3 linked regions of the Homo sapiens genome follow. The protein of the gene in region 3 interacts with the protein of the main gene of each other region in a pairwise test. Each region holds a gene or a part of one and is shown on either strand. Other genes may lie near its edges.

What was found. Proteins that work in one complex are often made in the same cells at the same time.
Region 1: the proteins of MAPDA (region 3) and PECAM1 interact in binary tests that used the Homo sapiens proteins (3 or more experiments, as listed by UniProt).
Region 2: the proteins of MAPDA (region 3) and ERN1 interact in binary tests that used the Homo sapiens proteins (3 or more experiments, as listed by UniProt).

The regions. Positions count from the first base shown.
Region 1 is NC_000017.11:64,373,578-64,381,331, forward strand, and holds part of PECAM1 (platelet endothelial cell adhesion molecule precursor), read right to left. Parts: intron 4,541-7,754; coding exon 4,247-4,540; intron 1,780-4,246; coding exon 1,474-1,779; intron 1-1,473. UniProt on the Homo sapiens protein: Cell adhesion molecule which is required for leukocyte transendothelial migration (TEM) under most inflammatory conditions.
Region 2 is NC_000017.11:64,049,862-64,057,615, reverse strand, and holds part of ERN1 (serine/threonine-protein kinase/endoribonuclease IRE1 precursor), read left to right. Parts: intron 1-1,667; coding exon 1,668-1,941; intron 1,942-2,787; coding exon 2,788-2,878; intron 2,879-3,176; coding exon 3,177-3,366; intron 3,367-4,244; coding exon 4,245-4,344; intron 4,345-4,636; coding exon 4,637-4,836; intron 4,837-7,754. UniProt on the Homo sapiens protein: Serine/threonine-protein kinase and endoribonuclease that acts as a key sensor for the endoplasmic reticulum unfolded protein response (UPR).
Region 3 is NC_000015.10:43,340,356-43,348,109, forward strand, and holds part of MAPDA (N6-Methyl-AMP deaminase), read left to right. Parts: intron 1-2,638; coding exon 2,639-2,720; intron 2,721-5,498; coding exon 5,499-5,625; intron 5,626-6,660; coding exon 6,661-6,741; intron 6,742-7,754. UniProt on the Homo sapiens protein: Catalyzes the hydrolysis of the free cytosolic methylated adenosine nucleotide N(6)-methyl-AMP (N6-mAMP) to produce inositol monophosphate (IMP) and methylamine.

The DNA of each region.
Region 1 (7,754 bases), on a different chromosome or scaffold from region 3:
AATATATGTAGAAAAAGTCTAGAGGATCATGTGTGGTTTTCTCTAAGTAGAGGCATTATAAATGATTGTCACTTTATATACATACTTTATATCCTGCTCTTTTGTCTGAAAATTCTACCCAGAGCACACATGATTTTATAATCAGATAATAGAACATACAGACACACATACACACAATGGGCAGGATAAAGTGGGATGCCAAAAGAAGGGGACCATTTATGACAAAATGTAAGTTTCCTATTTTGGAAATATTTGCAAATATCTACATGGGTGTGCCTTCCCCTGACTTCTCCCGGCTTGGCAAATGAGACCGGGTCCTGGGAGTGGCTGACTACCTGTCCTAGAGCCCTGTATGTCCTGGACACTCCCCAGCTTCCCTCTGCTGTTGCCTCCTTCTCTCCTGGGAGCATTTCCCAGGCCACCTCATTTGTTTGCTGTTTGTCCAACGCAAATCTACGTTGAACAACAGGAGGCCAAGGCTGAGGACCTGGCCCCTCTTTCCTCCCGATCCCCTCCAAACCCAACTTCCTGGTGTCTGACCCTCGATGGCTTAAAGCAGTGGCTTCCAAACTACAGATCACATAATGCATCAGTGTAGTGTGTCATGGCCAGTGTTTAAAGACTGAAATAGGCTGGGCACGGTGGCTCACGCCTGTAATCCTAGCACTTTAGGAGGCCGAGGTGAGTAGATCATCTGAGGTTAGGAGTTTGAGACCAGCCTGGCCAACATGGTAAAACCCTGTCTATACTAAAAATACAAATTTAGCCAGGCATGGTGGCATGCCCCTGTAATCCCAGCTACCCAGGAGGCTGAGGCAGGAGAATCGCTTGAACCTGGGAGGCGGAGGTTGCAGTGAGCTGAAATCATGCCACTGCACTCCAGCTCAGGCAACAGAGCAAGACCCTGTCTCAAAAACACACACAAGGTTGGGGTGGTGGCTCACGCCTGTAATCCCAGCACTATGGGAGGCCAAGGCGGGTGGATCGCCTGACATCAGGAGTTTGAGACCAGCCTGGCCAACATGACGAAACCCCATCTCTACTAAAGATACAAAAATTAGTCAGGTGTGGTGCTGCATGCCTGTAATCCCAGCTACTCCAGAGGCTGAGGCATAAGAATTGCTTGAACCCGGGAGGCAGAGGCTGCACTGAGCCAAGATTGCACCACTGCACTCCAGCTTGGGCGACAGAGCGAGACTCTGTCTCAAAAAAAAAACCCCAAAAACCAAGCCAAACAAACAAAAAGCATCATATATATTAAGAGTAAAGTGTTGTTGGTGAAACTCTTGTCTGAAAAATTGTATGCAATTTAACTGTATAACAGTCAAAAAAGCTTGAAAAATACTGGCTTAAAATGATTAAGAACAGGTCTTAAGTCCTGAGAACAGCAGCCCCTTCCCAGTTCTGGGTTCTTTCTCCCCATACCAAACCAGAAACCACAAAGAACGATGAGGAAGGGAGCAGGATGCTGACCCGTCACGGTGACCAGTTCACTCTTGGTAGATTCTGAGGTCTGCATATGGATCCCAGAAATGATCCTAGCTTGACATCGGAAGGATAAAACGCGGTCCTGTTCCTCAACGGGGAATTCCAGTATCACAAAATTCTGGTCTCGAGAATTCTTCTCTCTTTTCAGCTTGACCATTTTTTCATTTAGTTCAAGTTTTTCAATTGTGAAGTGTATTGGGGCCTTTTCCTCTGGGACAGAACAGTTGACCCTCACGATCCCACCTTGGATGGCCTCTTTCTTGTCCAGTGTCACCCTGGGACTGGGCACTCCTACGGGGAAAGAGAAAGTCTGTCAGTATCAGCCTGATTGAAGAGAAAGTCTGTCAGTATCAGCCTGATTGAGAGACACAAGCCTCCCTCCGCTGAGTGACTGTAGTTGACCCATGAGAGGGCTCTTTTTTGTTCTCTGAACACCCAGTGCGACCTACCAGGTAATAAATGAACAGGTATGTGCCCAGCACAGTACTAGGCACTTTGAAATATATAAAATCTGGAGGCTGAGGTGGGTGGATCTCTTGAGCCCAGGAGTTGGAGACCAGCCTGGGCAACACGGTGAAATGCTATCTCTACAAAAAAAAAAATTAAAAATTAGCCAGGGGTAGTTAGTGGTGTGCACTGGTAGTCCCAGCTACTTGGGAGGCCGAGGTGGGAGAATCACCTGAGCCGAGGAGGTTGAGGCGGCAGTGAGCAGTGATCCCACCACTGCACTCCAGCCTGGGCAACAGAGACCCTGTCTCAAAAAAGAGAAGAAAAGAAAGGAAAAAATATAAAATATGCTCAATGGGAGCTAAGCTATGAGGAAACAAAGGCATAAGAATGATACAGTGGACTTTGGGGACTCAGGGGAAAGAGTGGGAGGGAGCGAGGGATAAAAGACTACACACTGGGTACAGTGTACACTGCTCGGGTGATGGGTCCACCAAAATCACCACTAAGGCCACGCGAGGTGGCTCACATCTGTAATCTCAACACTTTGGGAGGCTGAGGCAGGTGGATCACCTGAGGTCAGGAGTTTGAGACCAGCCTGGCCAACATGGCGAAACCCCATCTCTATTAAAAATACAAAAAATTAGCCGGGCATGGTGGCAGGCACCTGTAATCCCAGCTACTTGGGAGGCTGAGGCAGGAGAATTGCTTGAACCCCGAAGGCAGAGGTTGCAGTGAGCTGAGATCGTGCCACTGCCCTCCAGCCTGGGCAACAGAGTGAGACTCTGTCTAAAAATAAATAAATAAATAAATAAATAAATAAATAAATTTAAAAAATAAAATATGGTCAAGATGTACTTGGTGTTTTCAATGGTTTATAATCCTATTGGGAAGAGGACACAATCAGATTCCCAACAGATGATGCTTAGAGGGGAAAGGTAGCCAGTATTTGTCAGTGTCACTGTGATTGTTGTTACCCTTTATTGAATGCAGCCACAGGCTAGGACTGACTTTAATTTATTCCATGAACATTGACTGAATGCCTACTATGAGCCACATTCATTGTTCAAGATATAAGAATAAACCAAACACCATCTCTGTCTTTACAATTTCACTATCCAGAAGAGCAGACAGATGTGTAAGAATGGATGGCAATACTGAGTGAAATAGAATATTTGTGGACCGGGCATGGTGGCTCACACCTGTAATCCTGACACTCTGGGAGGCCAAGGTGGGTAAATCACTTGAAGTTAGGAGTTCGAGACCAGGCTGGCCAACATGGTAAAACCCCATCCTTACTAAAAATACAAAAAATTAGCCAGGCACAGTGGCGCGTGCCTGTAATCCCAGTTGCTTGGGAGGCTGAGACAGGAGAATCGCTTGAACCCAGGAGACAGAGGTTGCAGTGAGCCAAGGTCGCGCCATTGCTCTTTAGCCTGGGTGACAGAGGAAGACTCTGTCTCAAAATAAATAAATACATTTCTATTTATTAGGAACTCACTAGGTGCTGGAAATTTTGCTAAGCACTCTACCCACATGACACTTTTAACCCTCTCAATAATTGCCTGAAATGGGTATCGTTGTTATCTTCCTTTTACTGGTGAGGATTTTGAAGTTTAGAGCTGTTAAGGGACTTGCCCAGATTGAAACCCAGGCAGAGTGACTGCAGAACGAGGTGTCTTAACACACCGCTGTGGCCTTTATACACACAAATACCATTGAATGTAGAGAGAGCATCAGAGCTGTACTGACTGGCACCCTGGGGTAGACCCATTTTGTTTTGGAAAGAGAAGACATCATTGAGTTGAGTCTTGAAGAAGAAATTTTAATTTATGAGACGAGATGAAGAAGCATTTTGGGAGGCCAAGGCAGGTGGATCACTTGAGGTCAGGAGTTCGAGACCAGCCTGACCAACACAGTGAAACCCCATCTCTACTAAAAATACAAAATTAGCCAGGTGTGGTGGCACACACCTGTAATCCCAATTACTTGGGAGGCTGAGGCAGGAGAATCGCTTGAACCTGGGAGGCAGAGGTTGCAGTGAGCCGAGATCACACCACTGCACTCCAGACTGGGTGACAGAGTGAGACTCCATCAAAGAAAGAAAGGAAGGAAGGAAGGAAGGAAGGGCCTGGCCTATTGGGAATATGTCTAGTGCTTACGTATTCAGGTAAGGAAAATGCCAGGCAGATGAATGAGAGGGTGATGGGTGGAGAGTTAAGTCCAGTGTCACTATTCATTCACAGCTGTTATTCACGCCACTGTGTGCTATGCTCCATCTGCTTGCCTGTGCTCAGTTCCAAGGACTCACCTTCCACCAACACCTGGTACTCTGCAGTGGTTTTCTCTTTGTTGTTCACAATCACAGTACATTTATATGTCCCTGAGTCATAGATCCGGACTTCAGGAATAAAATAACTCTCTGTGCTCTTCATGGAGGAGATGTTGTAAAACAGCACGTCATCCTTATAGAACAGCATCTGGTGCTGAGGCTTGACGTGAGAGGTGGTGCTGACATCCGCGAAGCACTGCAGGGTCAGGTTCTTCCCATTTTGCACCGTCCAGTCCGGCAGGCTCTTCATGTCAACACTGTTGATTGTGAAAGCTAAATGCAAAGGGAAGGAAGGCAGACATACCTGTTATCTCAGAAACAACATCATCCCGGTGACCTTCACCACATCAGATGTGGTCTTATCCCATCCTATGCAGTATTGAGTCCAGGGGTTCTACGTGCCTACAGGGCCAGGCTGATAGTAACTGTGCACAGTGGCTCAAGCAGGAGGCAGTTGGTACTAAGCTGCAACTTTTCCCACCAAGGCAAAGGAACAGAGTGTGATAAAGATGTAGAGCTAGGTATGGTGGCTCACGCCTATAATCCCAGCACTTTGGGAGACCAAGGTGGGTGGATCACCTGAGGTCAGCAGTTAGAGACTGGCCTGGCCAACATGGTGAAACCCCCTCTCTACTAAAAATACAAAAATTAGCCAGGTTTGGTGGTGCAGGCCTGTAATCCCAGCTACTTGAGAGGCTGAGGCACAAGAATCACTTGAACCTGGGAGGCGGGGGTTGCAGTGAGGTGAGATCTCACCACTGCACTCCAGCCTGGGCGACAGAGTGAGACTGTCTCAAAAGACAAAAAAAAAAAAAGATATAGGCATTCTGTGAGCTGCCACATCTTGGCCCCTGGAGGGAGTACAGGATTCAAGCAGTCAAGTGTTCAAGTCCTGGCTCATCATTTACTGTGTGACCCTGGGCAGCTAGACTCTCTGAGCTCAGTTTCCTTACCTGTAGGATGGAGTAATCATATCTCATTAGGTCTTTGCAGGAAATGTACAGGAGAACAGCCAGAACGTCTCCTGTACAGTGCCCGATATACATTAAGTGCTTAATAAATGACTGCTACCTCCATTCCGAAACCAGATGGTCGTGCCCAGGCCCTCCTTCTCCACCCAGGCCTTACCGAATTAGCACAGTCCCAGCTGGCATTTTCTATCTGATGGGCTCTGAGGTTTCACCAGATGGTGAGGACTTGAAACCAGTTTTTAGCCTGCTACTTGCGTTTTCAGCCTCACCTGCTACCAAGAAGCAAAGACTACAGATTCCCCTCTGCCAACGGCAGGAATCTCTGGTCAAGCCTCAAAACAGCCACAATGCTCAATCAGCTATCCAATCTCTGCTAGGAACTAGGCTGTGGGTCAACTGGCCAATTGTGTCATTTCTGGCAAGTCCCCAGAACAGAATTGGCTTATATCCAGTAACCATAGGCTGTCAATAGAATTCAGCTAACTACAGATCACATATTGAGGCTCATTCACAGTAGCAGGCTGACGGAAGGGTGGATTGCTTAAAATTGGGTGCTCTCTAGCTATTGCTGTGTTTTTGTCAGTTGGTTGGTTGTGGGCAACTGCCCTGAAAATTTTCCAGGCTAGAAGATCCTGAACCATGCCCATGGGTCAGGACTTGTATCCAAACTTCAGAGCAGACCAGGGTGAACTGCTTTTTGGAGATCCTCTTGGCAATGCCTGTAGGTGCTTCTGCAGCCCACTTGTGGTCTTAGTTTTACCCCTTGACATATCTCAAAGCACTCACTAGCTTCCCTGTGGTTGTCTTTTCCAAGCACATGAATCTGGGTTTAATCAGCACCATAAAATATTCACTCTCCAAATTCCTGTCAGAAAACAACTTCAAACATCTCATGTTCTATACATGGCTAAAAAAAATATGGATGAAGCTAGGTGCAGTGGCTCACACCTGTAATCCCAGAATTTTGGGAGGCCGAGGCAGGAGGATCGCTTGAGCCCAGAAGTTCGAGACCAGCCTGGGCAACATGGCAAAACCCTGACTCTACAAAAATACAAAAGAATCAGCTGGGCATGATGGCATGTGTCTGTAGTCCCAGCTACTCAGGAGGCTGAGGTGGGAGGATCACCTGAGCCTGGGAGGTCGAGGCTGAAGTGAGCCATGATCATGCCAGTGCACTCCAGCCTAGGTGACAGAGTGAGATCCTGTCTCAAAAAAAAAAAAAAGAAAGAAAAGAGGCCAGGCGCAGTGGCTCACGGCTGTAATCCCAGCACTTTGAGAGGCCAAGGTGGGTGAATCACCTGAGGTCAGGAGTTTAAGACCAGCCTGACCAACATGGTGAAACCCTGTCTCTACTAAAAATACAAAATTAGCCGGGTGTGGTACATGCCTGTAATCCCAGCTACTTAGTAGGCTGAGGCAGGAGAATCGCTTGAGCCCGGGATGCAGAGGTTGCAGTGAGCTGAGATCGCGCCATTGCACTCCAGCCTGGGCAACAAGAGCGAAACTCCATCTAAAAAAAATTAAATAAGTATAAAAAAGAGAAAAAGTAATTGATCTGTAGGGGATTTGGAAAAAAATGTACTGAAAGTCCATGACCATAAAACCAGGTGTTTTTCCCAAATCCCTACACGTCCCCCCAGAAATTTCTACCATGCCCATTCTCAAGGAAGCTACCTATCCAGCATTTGGACCTGGGATTGAAAGTGACTATGTCTGGTATGCTTTCTTAGCCCCCCATCTATCTCCATGAAGTATGAATAATGCAATCATGGAATTTTTTAAAATTTTTGAGTGAATGGAGCAGTCCAATGTTTAAAACTCTCAAAGACAGATGACATGATATGTAAAAACCTCAAAGAGTCTGCAGACAAATTATTAGAAATAAATGTGAGTTTAGAAAGGTGGCTGGATAAGGCCAGGAATGGCAGCTCACACCTGTAATCCCAGCACTGTGGGAGGCCAGGAGTTCGAGATCAGCCTGGCTAACATGGTGAAACCCCGTCTCTACCAAAAATACAAAAATTAGCCAGGCATTGTGGCATGCACCTGTAATCCCAGCTACTTGGGAGGCTGAGGCAGGGGAATCACTTGAACCTGGGAGGCACAGGTTGCAGTAAGTTGAGATCACAACACTGCACTGGGCGACAGAATAAGACTCTGTCTGCAAAAACACAAACAAACAAACGAAAAAGAAAGGTGGCTGGATATAAGATTAATATTTTACAAGTCAGCATAGTGGTCATCTCTGGAGGGAGGGGCTATGGGGTAGGGAGAAGCACAGATGCAAGCTATTAAATGGTCTTTTGGGATGTTGGTCTGGGATGTTGATGAGATATTGTCCCTAATTTCACAAAGTGTTCCAACAGCACCAGGAAACACTGTGTTTATGCTGAACAACTGATTCATTTCTATCTTGTGGATTCTGAGAATGTTCTAATGGACCTTGTTCCTCTTTTTGCTTTGATTGTTAACACACAGCAAAAATTTCACCTCTGCTTCTAGCAATCTTTGGGATG
Region 2 (7,754 bases), on a different chromosome or scaffold from region 3:
CGGGTGGATCACAAGGTCAGGAGATCAAGACCATCCTGGCTAACACAGTGAAACCCTGTCTCTACTAAAAATACAAAAAATTAGCCGGGCATGGTGGCAGGGGCCTGTAGTCCCAGCCACTCTGGAGGCTGAGGCAGGAGAATGGCGTGAACCCGTGAGGCGGAGCTTATAGTGAGCTGAGATCACACCACTGCACTCCAGCCTGGGCGACAGAGCAAGGCGACAGAGCAAGACTCCATCTCAAAAAAAAAGAAAAAAAAAGTCAGTGTTTGTTTATCTTCAAAAACATAATTAAAGAGACACTAGCCTCCCAGAAAAGGACAATTTTGTTCCTAAATCTTAGTGTTTTTCAGCTAAGAGCTGATTTATAAGCCTTGCTCAAAGATGATTTTGAATAGTTATCTGTATTTTTAAAGAATAAGGATAATAGATGAAGACCTTTCCTCCCTTAAAAACTGCCATTAGAACTTCTGCTGGGGAGAAGAACCAAAAAAAGAAAAAAGAAGCTGCCTGTGAGATCAGCTTGTGTGAAAAAGGCAGTGTGGCCATCCCTTTACTTCCTAGTTGGAAATGAGCAAGTTCTGTAGCAGAACAGGCCATGGGTGGGATGAAATATGTGAGGGGCATGGTCCTTCAGCAGGTTGCTCAGAGCATCGAGATGCTGTTACCTGAGAGCTCAGGAAGCTAATGACCCGCCCAGGAATGGGAATGACAGACTCTTTATGGCACTCCCCACTGGCACGTCTGCACCTGATAGTTTCACTTTTCACCTCACTCAGTCCTATGAGGTCATTATTATTGATCCCTTGTCCACAAAAGAAGGAAGTAGACCCTGAGAAGCTAAGTAACTTTCCCCACGGGTACCCAGCTAGTAGACGGCATTTCTAGGACTCCACCCCATGGTGGAGAGAAGAAGAGACGACTCCCTGGTGGGTTGGTGGCTCACAGAAGTCCCTTCAGTCCACCTCCTGCACATGGGTAGGGATGATCACAGATCGCTGCTACTTCAGATAATGACAGAATGAATCCTTCAGAGTATTTGAGAGGCATGTGGCCTCGGGGAAGGCAGTGGGATGAAAGGCGGAAGCAGGACCTCAGCCAGGCTCACCATGTGTCAGCCCCACTGCCACCTCCTGGCTATGTGTATGCAGATGTACTCTGCATACCTAGAATACTAGAGCTTCCTCACCTGCCCCTCTGGATTACTGAGTGTCTGTGCGCTAGCCTCTAGCCAACACACAGACACGGTGGGTGGCGAACCTGGGGCTTGCTCTCACCCACCACTGGCTCAGCCATGCTACCTGTGCTTCCTGTTTGGTTTCACCTTTGCAACAACTCTCAGACTTTCATGAAAATCACAGAATTTTAGAACTGAATGAAACTGGCACAGCCCTCAACCTAGGGCACAGTCCCTCCCCTGGTGGCCATCCAGCCCCTCCTAGGGTTGGGGAGTGGGCTGTATGAGCAAGGATCTAACTAGTCGGTGGAAAGACGTCCAGTCATCGAAGCAATTCTGCTTCCAGGTGCCTTCTCACTGGTCTCTTTGTGCCCTGTTGGGTCACATAAAGTACACATGCTCCCTCCGCCACTGGGACCTGTCCCTTCCCAGCTGCTTGTTTCCCTGTGGGAACAGCTGCCCTTGTCTGGATGTGGGTTTCTCTTCCCAGAGCATGCATCAGCAGCAGCAGCTCCAGCACCAGCAGTTCCAGAAGGAACTGGAGAAGATCCAGCTCCTGCAGCAGCAGCAGCAGCAGCTGCCCTTCCACCCACCTGGAGACACGGCTCAGGACGGCGAGCTCCTGGACACGTCTGGCCCGTACTCAGAGAGCTCGGGCACCAGCAGCCCCAGCACGTCCCCCAGGGCCTCCAACCACTCGCTCTGCTCCGGCAGCTCTGCCTCCAAGGCTGGCAGCAGCCCCTCCCTGGAACAAGACGATGGAGGTAAAGCCAGTTGCCATCTTGGTGCTATTTTATGTTTTATTCGAGCACCTCCTGAGAAGTCCAAGGAGTCTCCATAAGATTGTAAACTACCATTCTCAGGGGTTCACTGTGTTCTCCTCTAACTTCCACTCTGGGGGTCTCTGTGGGAAGGCTTCTGCCCCATCCCTTGGCATCTCCCCTTCAGAGGGCCTTCTGGGAACCACCCTGGCCATCCTCCTGTCTTTCTCCACAAGGGCTGGGCGTCGCGGCTGACCAGAGGTGAGCTGCCCATTGGGCTGAAGAGAGTTCCCAGGGCCAGCCGGTGGCCAAGTGTGGAAGTGTCACAGTTGGTCTGCTTTCCTCTGTGGAAGTTGGCTCAAGCCAGTTGTCAGAGCCCCAATTCTGAGGGAACTGGCACAGAGCTGGTGCAGGGAACTCAGAGCCCTCTGTCCCAAGGAGTCTCCTCGTTTTACATGTCCATTGCCGCCACCTGAATGCTTCAGTGCGGATCTTTACAGTGGACTTTGTGGTGGTTGTTAACTATTAAACCATTCTAACTATATCACAATGAATATGTATAAGTGTGTGAAACGCTATGGAGAATCCCTGCCTTCCAGAAGGTTTTAAGATATGCAATCGCACAATAAGGTAAAGGCGGAGACAGAATGCAGGGGCAGGGGGAAGAGGCAGTCCTGGGTGTACATGGGGAGTGGGCCTGGCAGGCTCTTGCTGAGCAGCAGTCTGGGGTGCAGTGCCTCTTAAATCCCATCTTTTAATCTGAGGTCAGGAAGCTTGTCACTATGTTAACCTCAAGGTTCTTTAGGTGATATCTGTTTGAAACAATCTCTTTTTCCTATTTTGTCCCAGATGAGGAAACCAGCGTGGTGATAGTTGGGAAAATTTCCTTCTGTCCCAAGGATGTCCTGGGCCATGGAGCTGAGGGCACAATTGTGTACCGGTGAGTGGATTAGCCAGCCCCCTGCCCTCACCGCCTGGTGTCTAAGTGCCTGTCAGGTTGCGAGCCTGGTGCCAGGCTCAGAGCACAGCAGGGTCAAAGCAGTGACCTAGACGCATGGAGTCCGGCCTCCAGGGAGCTTGCACACTGAGACAAGCGATGATTCCGGGGCCACCAGGCAGTCAGGCGGGGCTCTCTAGGCTGGGAGGCAGTAGGTGAATGCTGTGGACCCAGGTTCTCACCTCATTTACACAGCCTGACTCGTGCTTCCCAGACACAACTCCCACTCCTCATCCCGCAGGGGCATGTTTGACAACCGCGACGTGGCCGTGAAGAGGATCCTCCCCGAGTGTTTTAGCTTCGCAGACCGTGAGGTCCAGCTGTTGCGAGAATCGGATGAGCACCCGAACGTGATCCGCTACTTCTGCACGGAGAAGGACCGGCAATTCCAGTACATTGCCATCGAGCTGTGTGCAGCCACCCTGCAAGAGGTGGATTTATTTTTTTTATTTTGTTAACTTTATTAAAGTCATAGCACTTTGGGAGGCCAAAGTGAGCAGATCACGTGAGCTCAGGAGTTTGAGACCAGCCTGGACAACATGGTGAAACCCCATCTCTACAAAGAAACCAAAAATTAGCCAGGCCTAGCGATGTGTTCCTGTAGCCCCAGCTACTTGGGAGGCTGAGGTGGGAAGATTGCTTGAGCCTGGGAGATCAAGGCTGCAGTAAGCAGTGATTGTGCCACTGCACTCCAGCCTGGACAACAGAGTGAGACCCCGTCAAATTAAAAAAAAGTTACAGTGAATTGTACTAATTTTAAATGTAATAGCTTGATGAATTTTGACAAATGTCTATACCCATTTAACCACATACACAGTCAAAATGTGGAGCATTTTTATCCCTCTGGTTGTAACAGGGTGGTCCCCCCAGCATGCCTGGGCAGTCTGCTTGCAGTTGGCATGTCTCTCCCTCTTTGCCTCCAGGAAACCTGGACAGTTGTTCTTTCCCTCTTCAGTCATGGCTGGTGTGGGCTTGGAGGATGCCAGTTGGTAACTCCAGGCTTTAAGATCATCCAGCAAGCTCCTTTTGCTCATTTTCCAGGCTCACTTTGAAACCATATCAGTATCATTTGGATTCCTTTGTAGGTTTACTTATATGAGGCAATGAACTTGAGTTTCTTGCCTTCTTATCTTTCTCATTGTAAATTAGTAGATTTGGAGGTTTGCTCCTTGCTGGAAAACATGGATTTAGACAGAATGTTGTCAGTAAAACTTGCCATTTCTTTCTTAAAATGGTATCAAAGAAAGTGAGCCGAGGGGCCAAGTCCTGAGGACTGTGTGCCGTGACCTTGCTGTCATGTCTTTTGCAGTATGTGGAGCAGAAGGACTTTGCGCATCTCGGCCTGGAGCCCATCACCTTGCTGCAGCAGACCACCTCGGGCCTGGCCCACCTCCACTCCCTCAACATCGGTGAGAGGCTGCACTTTACCAGGCCAGCGGCCCGGGTGGGGAGAATCAGTGGCCCAGGTGGGGCTAACCAGTAGCTCGGGTGGGCCTTGCTTCTGTTCAAGCTCTTGGCTATATCACCAGTAGCAAAGATGAGTGGTGTAAGAATTTGAGGAGGAATCCGACATAGTTGAAAATCAGAACATTTGGAGGTGGCGGCAGGCATATTGGGAGTCTGACGAGGACACATTCCCCATTGGAGGAGGCCTGGGGTTGCTCCTGGTAAGCATTGGACTAATCTGGAGTTCTCTGTTAGTTCACAGAGACCTAAAGCCACACAACATCCTCATATCCATGCCCAATGCACACGGCAAGATCAAGGCCATGATCTCCGACTTTGGCCTCTGCAAGAAGCTGGCAGTGGGCAGACACAGTTTCAGCCGCCGATCTGGGGTGCCTGGCACAGAAGGCTGGATCGCTCCAGAGATGCTGAGCGAAGACTGTAAGGAGAACCCTGTGAGTAATAGGCTATGGCCCTTTGAAAACTACAGAACCAGCCCATTGTATCTTCAGGAGTAGAACCTTTAAATTCCAGGTTTGGGGGCTGGTGCCCGTGTAGCTGGAGAATGGCATTCCTTTCACCAAGAGCTTCTGTGTGAACATTCTGTGTCATCTCATGTTCAGCTGATTAAAGGGGCAAATGTGGGCAATTATCTATTTTTTTTCCCTATTCTTCCAATCACTTGTTTTTTTTTTTTGTTTGGTTGGTTGGCTGTTTTTTTGTTTTTTTTGTGTGACAGAGTCTTACTGTCACCCAGGCTGGAGTGTAGTGGCATGATCTCAGCTCACTGCAATCTCCACCTCCCAGGTTCAAGCGATTCTCCTGCTTCAGCCTCCTGAGTAGCTAGGATTACAGGTACCTGCCACCACACCCAGCTAAATCAATCACTTTTTAACCCCTTTTTAATTTTGGTAAACTGGGAAGTCAGGGCTTGCTTAGCGTGAGCAAACTTCAAGTTTTCATTATTTTTAAAATTTTGTTTTTGTTTTCTCAACTTATTTTGATAATTTTTAGACATAGAGAAAATTAAAAGAAAAAAATTTTTTAGAAGTGCGATCTCGCTATTTTGCCCAGGCTGGTCTTGAACTCCTGGGCTCAGGCTTAGCCTCCCAAAGTGCTGGGATTGCAGACATGAGCCACAGCATCTGGCTGAAAGAATGTTAACATGAATACCTGTGTATCTCCACCTAGATTCAACATTTGTTAATACTTTTGCCACATTTGCTTTATCTTTACCTATTACTGAACCATTTGAATATAAGTAGCAGGCATCCTGGCCCTTCATCCCTGAAGACCTCAGCACGTGTCTCCTAAGGAATACATTGTGTTTCCAACCACAATACCATTATCCCACCTCAACAGTTAATACTGTTTCTATCCATCATCTCATATTCAATCCATATTCAAATTTCCCCAATTAGTCCCCAAATGTCTTTTATAGAGTTGGTATTTTGCTACCTACTGGGTTTTGATACCTACTGGGTTTTATATACCAGGATGGAATCAGGTGTCTTGCGTTACATTTGATTCTGTCTCTTGGAATTTACAAATCTTTCCACCTATATTTTGTTCCATGTTGAAGTTCCATTTTGAAGAGTCCAGGCAGTGGGTTATAGGATGCCCCATTCTGGTTTGTTTGCTTTTTTCCTCATGACAGCGTTGAACATTTCTCTGTATTCCTTGTATTTCCTGGAAACCAGAAGTTAGGTGGAGAGGCTTGATTAGGTTCAAGTTAAATGTTTTTGGCACGAATGTTTTTGGCAGGTCTCTACATCAGAAAGCATGTGATGGCAGATTGTATCTGTAAGATTATTATCACCTCCTCTTAGTGATGCTACAGCTGATCTCTCTACCATAAGGGTTCATTTCCTCCTCTCTTGTTAGTATTTGGGGTGATACTTCAGCACAATGTGAATATCCTGTTTACTGACAGTCACTCACCCAGTGGTTTAGCATGTGTTGATCACCCTTGCCTGAAGTACTCAGTTGAGTAGAAATTCTTCTACATTGTTAGCTGACATTTTTCTGTAAAGCAGAGCTTTCTTTTCACTTTCTTCTCTCTCTCTTTTTTTTTTTTCTTAATCGCTATGGGCTCAAGGATTTTGAAACTAATGTTATAATCCATTTTAGTCCTTTTTTTGTTATTTACTTCTTTTGATACACAAATTGTTCCAAATTTGGCCAACCTGGAAACCCCTTCAAGCTGGCTTCTGCATCCATTTGCTGGGAGCGCACTCACACTTGAGCACCTTATTCTAGCACAAGTCGCCGAGGCTCACCTTGGACACTCCCCGATGGAGACCTGGGTGGGTCAGTCATCTTGAGTGGATTAGATATGGCTGCCTCTTATCCAGCTCACTGGGGACCAGCAGCTGGTCAGATCATCAAAGAAGTCAGTTACAGCGAAGAATCATAAAAACACGCACGCACGCCGTAACACTTAATTTTAACTTAAAGCAAGTAATATTAGCCCTTAAGTCATAGAAATCTTGTGCTGTAGGCTAAGGTCTTTTCAGATTTGGGTCTGACTGACTGGAGTCCTCATTTTCCCCCTTGCATTAAGCACACTTCTGTACCACTTCTGTGACTTCTGCATGGAGGCTTGGACACTTCAAACACTTCCTAAGCGATTTGAGAGCAGAAGCCTGGTTTTTAACGCTTCATGACCCAGTCCCTTACGGTTGAATCCACCACACCAAATGCCGCAGCAGCTCTTGTAACCATTCCCTTTCCTTTATCGAGTCTTTCTAAAGATTCAGCTTACCTCAGACTTCGTGGCACTCATGTTTAACAGCTTATGGAATATCCAAATTACAAGGACAAGTGGCAATAATAAGTTTGGGAAAGAACATAATTGGGGCCAGGCAGGTAGGAAAGATGCCTCTTCACCTTAGTGTTGTCTGTGCTGGGGACAGCAGGCTGCAGAGAGTGTGGGGGGCGTGAAAGACCCAGAGAGCTCTGGGAGTCAGGGGCGAGCTCCAGCTGTGGTGGCCATGTTCCTCCTGTCCCGAATCCAGCACCTTCCTAAGGGAAAATCCAGTGAGGTAGAATAAAGCATGGTAGGTTTGGAGATTGGAAGACCTGAGTCCCATCCTGGTTTATCACATCCAGCAGTGACCCTGAGCTTGTCATGCAACCTTTCTGTCCACGTTCTCATCTGGGGATGAAAGCATTTGCTCTGCTCGCCTCACAAGGTTGTTGTGAGGCTGAATGAGAGTGCTGTGTTGTTCAAGGTGTGTCTCCTCCAGCATGGGAGGTGATGAGCCCCTGCTTCCTCACACTAGACCCTCACTTCACCTGGTGGAGAATCTCAGAGGCAGGGCCTACTAACAGGGACCCAAGCTGTGCTCAGGAACCACCTTGGTATTACACC
Region 3 (7,754 bases):
GAATTTATACTTCTCAGCAAATGTACTGTCCTTTTCCTATGTGCTTTGATCACTCACATGTTTGTGAGTGGGAATATGAAGCACTAACTTTTATACTATTGTGTTGTTCTGTATTTCATTGAACCTTTAGTCAACAGTCCAAGTCCTCTCTCTGATGTACATTAATGATGTTCATTTTGTTTGTTTTAGAGACAGGGTCTTGCTGTCTTGCCCAGGCTGGAGTGCAGTGGTGCAAACATAGCTCACTGTAACCACAAACTCCTGGGCCCAACAATCACCTCAGCCTCTAAAAGTGCTGGGATTACAGGTGTGAGCCACCGTGCCCATCCTGATGTACATTATTAATGAGTGAGTTATTCTTAAGTAAAAAGTAGTAAAATTCCAGTCAGGCATTATCTGTTTAAGGAAGGAAACAAAGGCCTGCAGCAGTTTCTTTTGTTCTTCCTTGTTTAGTTGTTTTCACTCTGAGAAAAGGATACCTGCTCCTTATGTTTGCATTGTTACAAGCAGAGGCTGATTCTTGCTTCCTGCATCATGGGCACTTGTGAGACAATGCCATTGAGTGGATGCAGAATCATGTTTTATGGTAGTTACTAAAATGTAGGTTATTCATTCGCTTCTCAGGGAATAGTTTCTTAGGCCAGGAGCAAGCTGTGATGTGGTAAAACCTCTCTGGATAGAGATGAGATCTGGCTATGATCTGGAGGAATTTCCTGAGATCCTCCTTCTATAAGAGCAGCATCAGGAGACATTGGGGCCCTCTTAGCACCTTGTTTATGACCCAAAGAGACCTAGGTCATCTTGTTTCCTGATATATGTAGCTCAGTAATCATTTGGGGGTAAAATTTTTGAAACTTATTGTAAAGTATAAGTGTTTACATAAGATAAGGAGAAGGCTCTCATCTTGCATTTTTGAACCATAGAATCAGTTCCACGTTGTACTGGTGAGAGTAGTGAAAGGGAAGGAGAGAAGAGCCAACTCATAGGGCTCTTTCAATGGAGTTTTAAAAGAAGGATATTAACCTAAATATGCAACAGTAGAGGAATGGTTAAATAAAGGCTAATGGAATATTAGGCAACCATTAAAAATACTGGTGAAGACACTTTAATGACATGGGGAAATACTCGGACTCATGTTAAATGACTGAACTGGGTACATATATACCTAGTAGTATCTTCTCTATTTAAAAATGTGTATATGGGCAGAGTGCAGTGGCTCATGCCTGTAATTCCAGCGCTTTGGGAGGCTGAGGCAGGAGGATCACTTGACGCCAGAAGTTCGAGACCAGCCTGGGCAGCATCATAAGACCCCCCCCACCTCTATGGGCTCCAAGGGCTGCAGTGAACCATGATCGTGCCACTGCCCTCCAGCCTGAGCAACAGAGAGAGACCTTAAAAAAGGTCTCTTGAAATAATACATAAAAATAAATGTGTATATGTGTACTTGGAAAACAGTAGTTATCTCTGGGTGGTGGGGTTATTTTTATTTATTTATTTTTTTTGAGACGGAGTCTTGCTCGTCACCCAGACTGGAGTGCAGTGGTGGGATCTTGGCCCACTGCAACCTCCGCCTCCAAGGTTCAAGTGATTCTCCTGCCTCAGCCTCCCGAGTAGCAGGGATTATAGGCACATGCCACCACACTTGGCTCATTTTCATATTTTTAGTAGAGACAGGATTTCACCATGTTGGCCAGGGTGGTCTCGAACTCCTGACCTCAGGTGATCGGCCCGCCTCGGCCTCCGAAACTGATGGGATTACAGGCATGAGCCACCACACCCTATTTTTATTTTTATTTATAATTTTATATATTTTACCAGAGACTTTCCACCAAACATAAGCATTTTATAATCCGGGTAAAAGGGTATTTTATTTTACCCAATGTAGCCTAAAGAAAAAGAAAAAAAGGTATTTTACAGGAGGTTGCTCTGGAGAGTGCTCTTGCAGATCCCCTCAGAGAGCAGAGCACTCAGACTTGGAAGAACATGCCTGGTTCCCTGGATGAGAAACACTAAGCCCGAGCAGGATTGAGGGGAAAGGAATCCAAGTTAGGACTTTTTTTCTGGACTAGGAGGAGAGAAAATATCCCTTTTAAAAAAAAAAAAAAAAAAAAGGACAAGTGTAGTGGCTCATACCTGTAATCCCAGCACTTTGGGAGGCCAAGGCGGGCGTGTCACTTTCAGCCCAGGAGTTTGAGACCAGCTTGGGCAACATAGCAAAACCCCGTCTCTACTAAATATCCAAAAACTAGCTGGGCGTGGTGGTACCTTCCTGTAGTCTCAGCTACTCAGGAGGCTGAGGTGGCAGGATGGCTTGAGCTCAGGAGACAAAGGTTGCAGTGAGGCAAGATCATGCCACTGCACTCCAGCCTGGGTGACAGCCAGACCCTGTCTCAAAAAAAAAAAAAGCCTTTATTTTTTTTCATTTCATTTCTCTAACACTTCATTTCCCCCTAATTTTATTAAAATATAATTTGCATTTACTAAAATATACCCATAAGGGCCATGTTTTCACTCATCTTTAACTATGCCCTTGTCATAGCATAAAGTGAAAATGTAATTGTTCATATAGGATTGCTGAAGGTGAGGGATGAAATAGTTGATGATCTCTTTACATGTATTTTCTATGTGTCCTTTCTAGGAATGACTAAAAAGACTTATGTGGAATCTATACTTGAAGGTATAAAACAGTCCAAACAAGAAAACTTGGACATTGATGTTAGGTAAGAAGATTGTACCTTAGTAGTTAACATTTACAAAACCAGAATGTGAATTTTTACTGTTTTGATCATGGGTGTAATGGATTTTTTAAAATTAATCATTCATTGATTTATACAATAGAAAAATAAAATCAAGGACCCTGTTGTTTAAAGTGAGAACACAATTCTGAGTTTATTCATAAGGCAATAAAATTCTGAGTATTTTTACATGAGTAAAGTATGGTGTTCCTTTGCCATTAAGCTAAAATGAACTTCTTACTGTGGCCTACAAGGTCCCACATGATCTGGCTGCCTCTGTTACTTCAGCAGCTCATCTAGACCACTCCTCCTCCCTTACACGTGGGCCTGCTGTCTGTTCCTAAAATAAGCAAAAAAGACTGTTCCCCTTCAGCACCTTTGTTTAGTATTCCCCAGAACACATTTCTACCAGATTCCTGCCCAGCTGGCTGGCTTCTTCTCATTATTCAGATCTCAATTGGCTGTTACTTCCTCAGAGGGGCCTTCCTTTACCACTCTGTCTAAAGTGCCCTACTAATCCTCTAGTCACCCATCTATTTCCTTTATGGCATTATTTGTAACAAGATTAGGAATTATCTTGTGTTAGTTTGTATATATGCCCACCCACTAGGGTGTAAGTGTAGTGAAGCCAAGGACCTTGTTTTTTGATTCACCACTACATCTTTAGTACTTACCACAAAGTAGGTACATAGTATGGGCTCAGTAAAGCCCTAAATGAAGAAAGAAAAAAAGCTAGCTGTATAGTTTCAGGCTATAAGACTCTAAAAATTAAGCTTAAGTAATAACCCCAATAAAAAACCAAGCAGAAGACAATAGAATGCAGAGAAGAAGACATACAAAGAGCTGGTAGACATATAGAAATACAGAGAAAACTACTTAATTCATTAATCATATATTACAATACTGTTTCAGTAGGCTAAAAAAAGTAATAGCCAGTGTTTGTAAGTTACACACTGCTGGTAAGCATATGTAATTAATAAAACCTCTTTAAATCCTGCACTGGTACACAGGTAAGGGGGGAAAAACCTCTCTAAAGAGCAATATATGTCAAGATTTATAAAAAAGTTTTTCCCTCTGACACAGTAATTCTGTGCTAGAAATGCATCCCAGGAAATAGATTGATTTATGCATAAGATTCCTTATTATAATGTTATTTATAACAAAAATTAGAAAATAGCTTAAAATATCCAGCATTCAGAGGATAATTACATTATGGTATGCTCATATGATTTATACTATTTTCTAACATTATTTTAATGGCATGGGAAGTTGCTAAGTGAAAAAAAAAGATACAGCATTTTATATGTAGTTGATCTAAATTTTGTAAATAAATAAATGAACAAATGCTAAAGGAATTTATTTCGTCAATAAATAGTAAACTCATAACTGCTTTAAAAAATTATAGGGGTTCTCTGGGTATTCAAGAAATATTAACAGGCCAAGCACAGTGGCTCATGCCTGTAATCCCAGAACTTTGGGAGGCCAACATGGGCAGATCACCTGAGGTCAGGAGTTGGAGACCACCCTGGCCAACATGATGAAACTCCATCTCTACTAAAAATACAAAAATTAGCCAGGTGTGGTGGCAGGCACCTGTAATCTCAGCTACTCAGAAGGCTGAGGCAGAATTGCTTGAACCCGGGAGGTGGAGGTTGCAGTGAGCTGAGATCGTGCCATTTCACTCCAGCCTGGGTGACAAGAATGAAATTCTGTCTCAAAAAAAAAAAAAAAAGAAATATTAACAGAGATTCTCTGGGTATTCAAGTCTTATAGAATTCCAGCTGATATTTGAGGAATGAACTTTTATCAGATATTTGATACATTTTAGAAAGAGAATATTTCTAATTTTGTAACCCCCTAATGAAATAATGGATCTCACCCTCCTAAGAACACACCACCACCAGTTTACTCTTGCCAAAAAATGGAACCTGATCTGCCTCTGGACTAGACAGGAAATGTAAGAAATAGGACAACATGTTAAAGGCTGGGCATGGTGGTTCACGCCTGTAATCCCAGCACTTTGGGAGGCTGAGGCGGGCGGATCATGAGGTCAGGAGATCGAGACCATCTTGGCTAACACGGTGAAACTCCGTCTCTACTAAAAATACAAAAAATTAGCCGGGCGTGGTGGCACGTGCCTATAACCCCAGCTACTCGGGTGACTGAGGCAGGAGAATCGCTTGGACCCGGGAGGCAGAGATTGTAGTGAGCCCGAGATTGCACCATTGCACTCCAGCCTGGGCGACAGAGTGAGATTCCATCTCAAAAAAAAAAAAAAAAAATAGGACAACATGTTAACAACACAGGATACAATCAACAAAATCCAGACCATGGAAAACTTTGTAGGACAAACAACTTGGTTTCTTCAACAAATAAGTTACAAGAAAAGCAGGGTGGGAGGTGGGAGGAGAGGAAAGAGTGGTTGTAGATTAAGAGAGGCTTAGAAGATACATTGACTTACACAAAGTGTGGACCTTGTTTGGATCCTGAATCAAACAAACTGAAGAAACAAATACAGGAACAAAAAAACCTCGAAAGACAACTGTAAATCTGAACAGTGACTGGATGCTTGATGCTATTTAGGAATTCATGTCTCAGTCCGTATGACAAAGTAAAATGTCATGTTGTCTAGATTCAGTCAGGCTATACTTTTCCTAGTGAGATGTATTACACGTAGTCTGCCATCTCTGTCTGGCTGTACTCAGAATTGTCTTTTTCATCTGTGTCATATTAGTTTTCAACTCTGTCTTTCTTACATTAAAGGTATTTGATAGCAGTTGACAGAAGAGGTGGCCCTTTAGTAGCCAAGGAGACTGTAAAACTTGCCGAGGAGTTCTTCCTTTCTACTGAGGGTACAGTTCTTGGCCTTGACCTCAGTGGAGACCCTACTGTAAGTTATTTTTCCTACGTACATTTTAATTCTAAAAGGTAGAATCAGTGGGATAAGGACTAGCTTCGGGCATCTTGCATTGCATTCTCCAGAGTGTCCAACAGACACTCCATTCTGTGGATGAAGGCCTGTTCTGCCCTGGATGACCAGAATGCCTAGAGCAGCTCTCATCCAAGGTTCTGTGAAACAATTAAGTACCCTAAAAGAAAAAAAAAGAGTTGCCTGACTATATGACTATTTTCTCCATTCTTCTAAAGATGGTGCACAACTAGTCCCAGACTATATGCACTATAATGTAATTCATTACATACAATGGATGGATGTCTTAGGGTATTAGGGCTTAACTGTCTCATAGATAGTTGAGAAATGTTGACTTGAGCTTCTTGAATGTCAGATTCAAGCAGAAATCTTGATATTCGGGGCTGGATAATTTGTTGTGGGGCTGCCCCATGCATTGTAGGATGTTTAGCAGCATCCTTGGCCTCTACCCACTAGATGCCAGTAGCACTCTCCCAGATATGACAACCAAAAATGTCTCCAGACATTGCCAAGTGTCCCCTGGGGGGCAGAATTGCTCCTGGTTGAAAACAGCTGAATAAGAGAGTCCCATGAAATTGATTCTTATGGCTTTGTCCAAACCTGGAGTATTCTGCCCTTCTTTTTATCCACCTGTTTAACGGAAGTGTTTTGAGTAATCATGAGAGTTCCTGAGTCAAGTGAGTGAGTTCTCCTTAGCTCTGGATATCTAGGTGTCCTTCCAGGCATAAAATTTGGTGACTACTATATCCAGCTTAGCTGATTGACCTCAGTTTACTGATACTAGACAAGATTCTCGAGGGCAGGAACTGTGCCTTTGCCAGCTTTGTATTCAGTGAAGTGGCTCGCACATTGTAGGTGCTTTATAAACAAGATGTGCAAATGAATTAATCTACCATTATTTTTTTCTGCCATTATGTTGTTTATTGGAATGGAGTACTCAGTTCCTCAGTTTTCCCAGAATTCTCATGCATCCTTATTTTAACTTTTATCTTTAAGGTAGGACAAGCAAAAGACTTCTTGGAACCTCTTTTAGAAGCTAAGAAAGCAGGTCTGAAGTTAGCATTGCATCTTTCAGAGGTAAATAATATTGTCTTAGGCTAGAAGGGACAGATTGTAATAGAAAATAATAGGGTCATTTGTAAGTGACTAGGAATAAACCGGGATTGGAAAAACATTTTTTAAAAAGGGAAAGTAGAAATATTTTTACATCTAAATTTAAAAATACATGACTTGCTTCAGTCTCTACTGTTACTGTTTTTATCCTTTTGTGGTTCCTGGGAGTGGCTGTTGACTCAAATGCCAGCTGTGTCATTAAAAGCAGTTTAATGACGTCTTGCTAGAGAAAATGCATGAATTTCCAACATCAGTCTTGTCATTGGCAAGCTGACTCTAAGAAAAGCACCAATTTATCTCACCTGTCCTCATAGTAGAAGGGACCTGATTGTATCACATCCACTGGCAGTAAAGGAAGCAGCTCGTCATTTTTCAAAGCCCAGCAAAGAGGTCCAGTGCCCCTCATCAGCCCCAAGCTCACTGTTAGCATGAACGTAGTAACAGATAATTGCTGGGAAGTAGTCACTTTCTTAAGCACATCCTTATGAGGCAAACCCCTTTTGAGGGACTTTGCTGCAATTTTCCCCATTTTATAAATGGATGTATTTTTTACCTCAGTACTTCTAGCTATTTAATTATTTCTTAAATGCAGAAAATAATACTTAGTCTACTTACCTCACAGTTATTGTATTAAAGGGGTAATGTATAAAGGTTGAGTAACATCATGATTTAAAGATTAGGGAAAAAAATCAGAACCCCTTGCCAGTACTTGTATCTTTCATGTCTATAAGCAGAAGGTCAGTAATCTAGTGGCAGGACTTAAAATCTAGAATCTATGTTTCCACACTCTTAACTCAAAAGACCTTTCATCCACAGGACATCCTATGGCTGACCTAACTGATGTGTGATAGAAACCATTGGTCATTATAAGGGAATAGCATGTGTGACAGTGACCAGTTATCTCTGGCCTTGTGTGCAACATCAGAACTTGTTCTTTACCTTAGTTTCTGTTGCTTTTATCATCCAGTCCATTGGAT